2 separate regions of the Homo sapiens genome follow, and region 2 is linked to region 1. Evidence: fine-mapped expression QTL. Tissue or cell type: whole blood. Region 1 holds a variant in brackets; the other region holds the start of a gene. All regions are shown on one strand. Distances are between the middles of the regions.

What was found. PIP is the estimated chance that this variant, and not a neighbour inherited with it, causes the effect.
Region 2: ZDHHC20 starts here. The variant in region 1 is fine-mapped to the expression of ZDHHC20 in whole blood (INTERVAL, PIP above 0.99).

What each region holds. Positions count from the first base shown.
Region 1 is chr13:21,541,396-21,546,395 of GRCh38, reverse strand. The region is part of intron 2 of MICU2 (mitochondrial calcium uptake 2); the gene reads left to right. Among named protein-coding and RNA genes, the nearest start is that of MICU2, 60 kb to the left of the region's middle. The variant C/TTTTC (reference allele first, on the strand shown) is at 1,880.
Region 2 is chr13:21,456,215-21,461,214 of GRCh38, reverse strand. ZDHHC20 (zDHHC palmitoyltransferase 20) reads left to right here and starts at 1,912. Exons shown (of 13, transcript NM_001330059.2): 1 at 1,912-2,161. The coding sequence starts at 2,044. It overlaps LOC124903131 (a long non-coding RNA gene), which reads right to left and starts at 1,668. Exons shown (of 2, transcript XR_007063713.1): 1 at 1,036-1,668; 2 at 569-832. RefSeq lists a cis regulatory region at 1,671, an enhancer at 1,587-1,756 and a silencer at 1,620-1,999.

The DNA.
Region 1 (5,000 bases):
ATTTCTCCTTCAGATCATGTTTAAACTAATTAAATAATTTGTTGTGTATAATGCTCTTATTATTTCACAATGCTTGAGGTTGCAAAAAAAAAAAAAAAAAGTCTTTTTATCCCTTCCAAAACAAATGTATTTGAAGACCATACTTTGGAAATTGGCAAGGAAGCCAGTTTTAGGCATTTTAGGGAATAACCATTTGTTTCCCTTTAGAAAAAATACAACCAGAGACTACCTTTGCATCCACTATTTAAATATTCCAGCAAACATAAACAAGCCATATACTTTGTTGAAGGAAAATAGCACCACTGAATTTGTCCTCTTTTTTTCTTCAGTTACCACTTAAAATGTTTTATTTATTGATTTTTTTTAACTGACCCATAATAATTGTACATACTTATGGGGTACATAGTGATGTTGCAATACATGTAGTATGTAGTGATCATATCAGGGTAATTAGTATGTGCATCTCAAACATTTATCATTTCTTTGTGTTGAGAACATTCAGTTTCCTCCTTCTAGATCTTTGAAACTAGGTGATGTATTATTGCTAATTGTAGTTATCTTACAGTGGTATATAGAACACTAGAACTTTGCCCTCCAGTCTTGCGGTAATTTTGTATCCTTTAACAAATCTCTTCCTATCCCTCTCTTCCTCCCACCCTTCCCAGCCTCTAGTATACTCTGTCCTACTTTCTACTTCTATGATATCAACCCTTTTTTTTTTTTAGATGGAGTTTTCGCTCTTGCTGGAGTGCAGTGGTGTGGTCTCGGCTCACAGCAACCTCTGCCTTCCAGGCTCAAGTGATTCTCCTGCCTCAGCCTCCAGAGTAGCTGGGATTACAGGCGCCCGCCACCACACCCATCAATTTTTGTATTTTTTAGTAGAGATGGAGTTTCACCACGCTGGTCAGGCTGGTCTCGAACTCCTAACCTCAGGTGATCTGTCCGCCTCGGCCTCCCAAAGTGCTGGGATTACAGGCGTGAGCCACTGCACCCGGCTGAGATAAACTTTTTTTAGCTTCCACATATCAGTGAGAATATTGGGTGTTTAACTTTTGGTTCTTGGCTTGATTTCACTTAGCATAATGTCCTCCAGTTCCATCCATGTTGCTGTTAATGACTGGATTTCATTTTTTTAATGGCTGAATAGCATTCCATTGTATGCATATACCACATTTTCATTATCTGTTCTTCATCTGTTGTTGGACACTTAGGTTGATTCCATGTCTTGGCTGTTGTGAATAGTGCTGCAGTAAACATGCTGGGGAGATGCAGATGCCTCTTTGATGTATTGATTGTTTTTTCCTTTGGATGAATGCCCTGTAGTGGGGTTGCTGGATCATATGGTAATTCTATTTTTAGTTTTGTGAGGAACTTCATACTGTTGTCCATAGTAGTATATGTTCTAGTTTACATTCTCACCAACAGTGTATAAGAGTTCCTTTCCTGGCCGGTGCAGTGGCTCACAAGTGTAATCCTAGCACTTTGGGAGGCTGAGGTGGGAGGATTGCTTGAGTTCAGGAATTTGAAACCACCCTGGACAACATAGCAAGACCTCATCTCTACTAAAAATCAAAAAATTAGCCAGGCCTGGTGGTGCATATCCATAGTCCCAGCTAGTTGGGAAGTTGAGCAAGAGGATTACTTGAGCCCAGGAAGTTGAGGACTCAGTGAGCTATGACCATGCCACTGCACTCTAGCCTGGGCAACAGAGCAAGACCCTGTCTCAAAAAAGAATTCCTTTTCTCTGCATCCTTGCAAGAGTTTATTTTTTGTCTTTTTGCTAATAGCCATCATAACTGGGATGAGACGATACCTCATTATAGTTTTGATTTGCATTTCCCTGATGATCAGTGGTATTGAGTTTTTTTTTTTTTTTTTT[C/TTTTC]ATGTGTTTATTGGTCATTTTGTATGTGTTCTTTTTTGAAGTGTCTATTCAGGCTCTTTGCCCATTTTTAATTGAATTTTTATTTTTTGCTGTTGATATTTTCTCCCATTCTGTAGGTTGTCTTTTTACCCTTGTTTGTTCCCTTTGCTGTACAGAAGCGTTTTACATCATCTCACTAATTTATTTTTTAAGTTTGGTATCATCTCACTAATTTATTTTTTGCTTTTGTTGTCTGTGCTTTTGAGGTCTTATTCATAAAATCATTTCCCAAACCAATGTCCTGAAGTATTTCACCTGTTTTCTTAAAGTGGTTTTGTAGTTTGAGGTCTTACATTTAGGTCTTTGATCCATTTTGAGTTGATTTTTATATAAGGTGAGGGGGTTAGATCTGGTTTCATTCTTCTGCATGTGGACATCTAGTTTTCCCAGCACCATTTATTGAAGAGAGTGTTCTCTCCTCAACTTAGGTTCTTGGTACTTCTAACTAAAATCAATTGGCTGTAGATACATGGATGTATTTCTAGGTTCTCTGTTCTGTTGGTCTGTGTTTCTGTTTTTATGCCATACCATGCTGTTTTTTGGTTACTACAGCTTTGTAGTATATTTGGAAGTGTGGTAGTTTGATGCCTCCAGCTTTGTTCCTTTTGCTGAGGATTGTTGTGGCTGTTTAGGGTCTTTTGTGGTTCCATAGAAGTTTTAGGATTTTTTTTCTACTTGCATGAAGAGTGTCATTGTTATTTTGATAAGGATTACATTGGATCTATAGATCACTTTGGATAGTGTGGTCCTTTTAACAATATTAATTCTTCTGATCCACGAGCCGGGGATGTTTTTCCATTCGTCTGTATCCTCCTCGGTTTCTTTCGTCAGTGTTTTGTAGTTATTTTTGTGAAGGTTTTCACCTCCTCAGTTAAATTTATTCCCATTTGTTTTGTGTGTATGTGTTTTTGTACCTATTGCAAATGGATTGCTTCTTGATTTCTTAGTTCATTGCTTGCATATAGAAAATGCTACTGATTTTTCTATGTTGATTTTATATCTGCAACTTTACTGAATTCATTTATTCTAAGAGTTTTTTGGTAGAGACTTTAGGTTTTTCTATGTATAAGATCATGTTGTCTGCAAATAGGAACAGTTTGACTTCTTCCTTTCCAATTTGGATGCCCTTTATTTTTCTTTCTCTTGCCTAATTGCTCTGACTAGGACTTCCAGTTCTATGTTGAATAAAAGGGGTGAGCATCCTTGTCTCATTTCAGTTCTTAGAAGAAAAGCTGAGAGCTTGTAGTATGATGTTAGCTGTAGCATTTACCACTTTTATTAGTGATATGAAGAAGGTTAGTTTTGCTAATGCATCATTTTCTGCCTTGGTTTCCATAATAGCTGTGACTGAATAAAAGCATGTATTAGAGTATAATCAGCTCTGTCTTAGGCTGATTCTAATATTGATGCCAAGTTGTCACATATATTTATGAAAAAGTTATGAAATAAAGAAAATGTGTCTATTGTCTAATTTTTATGTATTAGACTAGTAACCTCTACAAAATGAAATTAAGTTATGTAGTGCTGGTGTTGTTTTTGTAATTATGATTATCAAATAACTTTATTTTGGCCAGGGGCAGATTTATTGGATCTATAAGAACACTTAATGTGTATCAATGCAGCTTTACTATTTTAAGTATTAAAAGGCTCACTTACCTATAACAGGATATGCTGTATCTGGATTTTACTTCATAAATCCTCTGTAAATAGTGAAAACCACATGGTGGAATCTCTAATATGGGTGGAATCCTTTTAAAACATTTTACTTCCTGAACCAAAATTCCTAGTGCTTCAAGATCTATGCCGCCTCCTACAAAAACAAAAACCCCTAATGTGTTTTTCTTGTTTTCATATTCATACAATGAAACATTACAACCTCAATTCTAGATCTTTTTTCCTGTTTTTTGCCCCATTCTGTTATTTTCATACATAAGTGTGTGAATACATATCAAATAGCTGTGAAAATAATGAGACTGAATTTTTTATTTGTGTGAATGTGGAAATAGCCAAAGAAAGAGAGACAGGAGTGTCCCCCTACCCTACATTGAAAAAAACAAACTCAAACAAAAACAGAAGGAAAAATTAGATTATTTGCCAGATGGGTTTTATCCTTAAATAGAAAAATATTGTCCAGAAATACTTAGGTGTATTTAATATGCTCTTGCCTTGTTACTGCTGTAGGGAGAAAAAAGGTCATGGCTCCTGCTGTGCAGGTCAGACCATGGACCTCTTATTTTGCTGCTCAGCCATGAACAAGTAGTATAGAGTAAGCATCCTGGGTGAGACAACTGTCTACCAAGAAAACCCTGCCAGAGTGTTCTGGATTAGAAACACCACAACCTCTCATAATACTCAGGGAGAGGTGCATTAACTGAAGAGAAAGAGGAAGCAGGAGAGAACGGGTGTTCATTCCTAGTATCTTTGCCTTGTCTTTTTTTTTTAATCTAAAAATGAATTTTATGTAAGAGACTAGCTTCTAAACTTTTAATCAAAAAGTTAATTTCTTCATTATTTTCTAATTATTTATTCCATTTGAATTAAAAAAATTTAAAAAGATGTTTTTACAACTTAAACTGCATTAAGTATCTGGTTTTCTCCTTTTTGATGATCAAATTTTTATATACATGTCAAATAGAACTTGTAATCTACATTAAATAATGAAAAGCAGCAAAACTGCCTCTATAATCGTACCATGCATAATTATTCAGTTTTGTTAAGTGTTGAAAGTAGGCCGCAGGCTCTTTTTACTACTGTCATGGAATTCAAAGAGTCTAACACCTGTTTTTGAAAAATCTATATGAGATATGAAAATAAATCCTTCAAGGCCCATATTGTTACCTAATTCCTCTTGCCAATTTGTTTTACATGTAAAGTGGGGATATAATAATTTATCCAAAAGACAGGGACCTGGATAAGAAGACATTGTGAAATCTTTTCTGATTTGTTTATTCAGTTACTCATTCAACAAATATTTAAATGTTTAGCACTGACCTACATAAAAGTAAGACAGGTATGAAATCTGCCTCCATAGATTTTATAATTTACTTTTTACCTGTAATTCTGGTGTTATATTATTCAATCA
Region 2 (5,000 bases), 85 kb after region 1:
ACTAGAGAAAGAACCCCTCATCCAAGGGGATGGCACTAAACCATTCATGAGGGATCCACCCTAATGATCCAATACCTCCCACCAGGTCCCACCTCCAACACTGGGATCACATTTCAACATGGGATTTGGAGGGGACAAACATCCAAACCATATCCAATATCCTTGCCAACACTTTGATTTGGGACACCTACCCTCCTAAACTGTGAGACAACCAATTTCTATTATTCCCCAGTTTTGTGGTACTTTGTTATAGTCACCCTAGGAAACGAATGTGACAGTTTTATAGTTAGGTTATAAACAAAATGTCGTGAAAGATCATTTCTAGCAGCCCTGGAGCTTGTAAAGGACATGGCTTTGTGCTGAGCTCTAGCAGCATGGTTTTGGTACGTAGAGATGACATAGAGGAGAAACGGCTTTATGTTCTTCCATGTCCATCCGAATTCTATGTTGAGGTCTAACCCTCCTAAGCAGCCTCTCTGGAAAACTAGTTGAACTTGAACCTAAACCTACTGTCAACTAGGCCACTAACTAATATGACTTTTAAGGCACAAAATCAGGGAGAACAGAATCTTTTATACATGCTTTATTACTCAAGCAGCAGTGTGCAGTGATTAAATACTTACTCGCTTTTACTACATTTCTCTGACACAGCAAAGGGTGACGTCTTCTTCATGGAGACTTTAGTGAGCAGTAGCTAATTTAAAGCTCAGTGTAGGCCGGTCGTGGTGGCTCACACCTGTAATCTCAGCACTTCTTTGGGAGGTGGAGGCGGAGAGGGGTTGGGATTCCTTGAGCCTTGGAGTTCAGGGCCAGCATGGCAACAGGGCGAAACCTAGTTTTTACAGAAAATACAAACATCAGCTGGGCATGGTGGCGGGCCTGTAGTCCCTGCTACTCTGCAGGCTGAAGCAGGAGGAGTGCTTTAGCAGGGAGGTCGAGGCTTAAATGAGCCCAGGTCGTGCCACTGCACTCCAGCTTGGGCGACAGAGCGAGAAGACCCTGTTTCAAAAAACAAACACAAAAATTCATTCTAACCAAAACTGAATGCTAGTAGCAGGAACTGGTATGAAGATTGCGGTCTGGAATCCCTTCTAATGCGTCTGACCTTGCATTGTGAAGTCTTCACAGTGATGCTTCTGGGTTCTATATGATTATCGTCATTGCTTAGCAACCTCTAGTTGTAAATAAATTCTTTAAATTTCCTTAGTCGTTTGCGGGGCAAGGAGAGGGTCATTTACATGCCCTTTCCTTCTCGCTACTCAATCTTAAATTTGGGTTACGAATCAAACTGATGGACCCTACATGGCTTCTACCCGAAATTACAGGTATCTACCGTTCCATCTTCAAGAAAGGGAGGGGTTCCGCCAAGATGGACGAACATAAAAATCACAGGAGGAGCCTTCTAACAATGTGCATTCTTCGCACACTGAGTGGGGAATGGCCTTGTCATGTTTGAAACAGTGCCCCAACTACTCAATGTCCCAGGAACCCCAGTGGAGCGAGTTCTGTACACAGAGAGGGCCAAGATCCACAAATCAGCTAAGGAATCATTTCCATAGTCTCCCTCCCCTATTGAGTCTCGATCCACAAAAGCTATCCCCTGTCCCTCTCATCCATCAAGGGCGTGTTTTTCGCCTCTCCTTCCCCGGCCTCCCGCGTCCGCCCAGCCTGTCCGCATCCAGCCCCGCCACGCCCCATGGGCGGTCCCGAGCTGCGGCCCCGCCCCCTCACCGCCTCCCCGGCCGCGGAAACCCCGCCCCAACGACGCGGAGACCGGGGGCGGCCCGCGGCCCGCGGCGGGCGGGCTGGCGGGGACGGACGCGGGGGGAGGGGGGCGACGGGATGTGGGGTGGGGGCGGGGCCTGGCTGGGCGCCGGGACGGGAGGAGTCCCGGCGGCGCCTCGGACTTTTGCTCCCACAAGTCCTGCCTCGGAGGCGGGGGAGCTGGACCAGCAGCCGCCTGGAGCGTCCGAGTCACCGTCGCCGGGGCTCCCGCGCTCCCCAGAACGGTGGGACGCGGGGCTCGGCAGCCGCCAGCGGAACATGGCGCCCTGGACGCTGTGGCGCTGCTGCCAGCGCGTCGTGGGCTGGGTGCCGGTGCTCTTCATCACCTTCGTGGTCGTCTGGTCCTACTACGCGTACGTGGTGGAGCTCTGCGTGTGTGAGTACCGTCCCCGGGGACTGCGGCGGGGCGCGGGCCGCGGCTAGGGCGCGAGATAGGCCTCTGCGCCCCACACCCGCCGCCTTTCTGGAGCCAGCGCCGGACGCCGGGCGTCCGGCCCCGAACGCGCTCGGAAGCGCCGAGGTTGCTGCACCCGCCGCTTTGTTCAATCCTGCGGCGCGGCCTTGGGGCGACCTGGGGCTCCTGAAGCCTTGCGGCGGCTTCCCGGGTGCAGGTCTGGCCCAGGGAGGCCCCAAGAGCTTCCTGGTTCCCGCCGACACCGGGGGTCTGCATCCTTCTGGGAAGGAACGTGCAGAACGGGAGTAGTCGAGCTTCTTAGAAGGTTTAGGTTGTGTTTGTGGCTTTTTTGGCTTTTGTTCATTTTTTTTAAAAAACCAAATCTGTTCCTTCTGGATTGTTTTTGTTCAAACTGCGCGAGAAGAAACGCCTGTTACCTGTAGAGCCGGCTGTGGCGGGTTGGGGGAAGGGAGGTGTGTCTTTTGGTGGCCTCGGGCTGGAGGCGGGTCAGACCTGGAGGACGAGTAAGCTCCCACTTTTGATTTTTGGTGGTACTCGACTCATTGTAAAATTCGTTTATTTCTACTCTGAATCCAGCCGGCTTTTGCAGAAGGTTAAGACAGAAAGAATGGGTGGGAGGAGACATAACCTGATTATTTTTTTCTTGGCTGATTATTAAGGAGGCTTATATTTCTTATACTCATATTTTGGCGTGTTAATTTTCGTTACTTCCATTTTCCTGATAAGTTCTTAGCACAAAATTCTCATCTGATTCCCTGGAAAAAAGGAGTAGCATTGCAGTATACTTCAAGGATTTAACCTACTGGCTTGAATTGGTTGCCTTTAAGATTGAAGGAAATTGGTTGTCATTAATCAAAAACACTGTTTAGGGGTGACTGCTACATTTGTGATATTGGGCAATTTCTCCAACATTGTTTTGTCTTAAGTAAATTGTTCTTAGGCTTTGAGTATGTGGGTATTTTACACTTAAACTGGCCTCAACTAGGGTGTTCTGTATACATCTGCTGCCTATATCAATTTTTTATGAAAACCTAGGACCAAATGGTAAGTGGTGTTTGTAAACGTTATTGTTATTCCAGAATGTTCTACTCTTAGTCCTTAGACTGAATCTACCATTTTATGAAGGACTGTTAAGTGTTCTTTGAATAACGAACCACATCAGCTAGAAACTAATGTTATGAATGAGAAGAATCTGTACCACCCACTCTTGAAAGTGGCAGAATCAAGACTTCAATTATGTTTGGATTTGTACAGCTTTCAACCAAGTATTTGGTTAAAACCCTAGTTCTATACATGGAAGAGAATGCTTTGGCTCAGAAAATTTATAAGTTTTGAAATTAAAACATCCAGTTTTAAAATTACTTTGTACCTATAGAACGTTTAATTTTGGGACGACTATCCCTGCAGGTAGGCCCAGAATAAATTAGTTGTGGAATACATTTCCAAATAATATTAATCTTTTCAATATCATTGTTTAGTCTCATGCTTTTGGATACCAGAATGTTTACTAAAAATGATGTTTGAGTCAATTAAAATTACTAGATTTTAATATTTCTGGGAGCTACTTCCAGAAAGTGGTAGTGATCATAGGATTCTCATCAACTTATGATGATACCTCCTTTATCTTCTTATTTACTCTGAAGTGGGCATTTATTCTAAAAGTTATGTCATTCCTATTCTGTCAGAAGATTATTCCTACCGTATTTTAATTCCCGTAGTGGTTTTGAAGTAAAGCTGAAGGAACACTAAAAATGTGCATTTATGTTGAGATTCCACAGCTTAACCTGTAGATGGTTTTTGTCAAAAATATTAAGAAATGAGATCAAACAGTGCTGTGAAAAGTCTTAAATTGCTTCTGATTTCTTTCACCACTTCAAATAAAGAAGGAGAAATGAACATGAATTGAGAAGTGCCATGTGCTAGTGGGCATAGAGGGGACATTTCATTCACCCTCTCCTTTAATTCTTTCAGTATGTCACAGCATAGGTATCTCTACAGGTGGAGGACGTGAGACTGAGCGAATAGGTCCTTTTGGTTAGGTCACACAATTGATTATTGGAATGTGACCCACATCTTTCCGTTCTTTCATATAACTTCAGTAAGCTATGAGGGTCAATGGAACTGTAATTGTTTGGTCCATAATGGTGTGGGGGGATAAAGGGGTTGGCATATTTTTGGAGATCACTTAGTTAGGCTTGAGGCCCATTCTGTAGAGATTATACCCTACAATTTCATTAAGTTAAAACATTCTATAACTATGGCCTGATGCTTGGCAGAATCTTAAAATATTTGGTGGTGAAAGGTCTTATGTAGAGGCTGTATTAACTTCTGAGTTATCTCATTTTAACTAGAGAGAATTTGGGAGGTCTGCAGTGTCACTGGAGTATAAAATAGTTGAGCATAAAAGTGCATTTACTCATATTAAAACTATCCTTTAAACTACTTGTATGTATTTGTTTTCATAAGTACTGACCCTCCCACTGAAATATGTATAGATATATTACTTTATAGGAGGACTTAAATGGAGGGAAGTGTGAGTTTTACTTAAAAGTGCTGTTTTAATACTTTTATAGGATATTCTTTTTATTTATATATGTATTTTTTGAGCCAGAGTTTCACTCTTGTTGCCCAGGCTGGAGTGCAATGATGCGATCTTGGCTCACTGCAACCTCTGCCTCCTGGGTTCAAGTGACTCTCCTGCCTCAGCCTCCCAAGTAGCTGGGATTACAGGTGCCCGCCACCATGCCCAGCTAATTTTTTTTGTATTTTTAGTAGAGACGGGGGTTTCACCTTGTTGGTC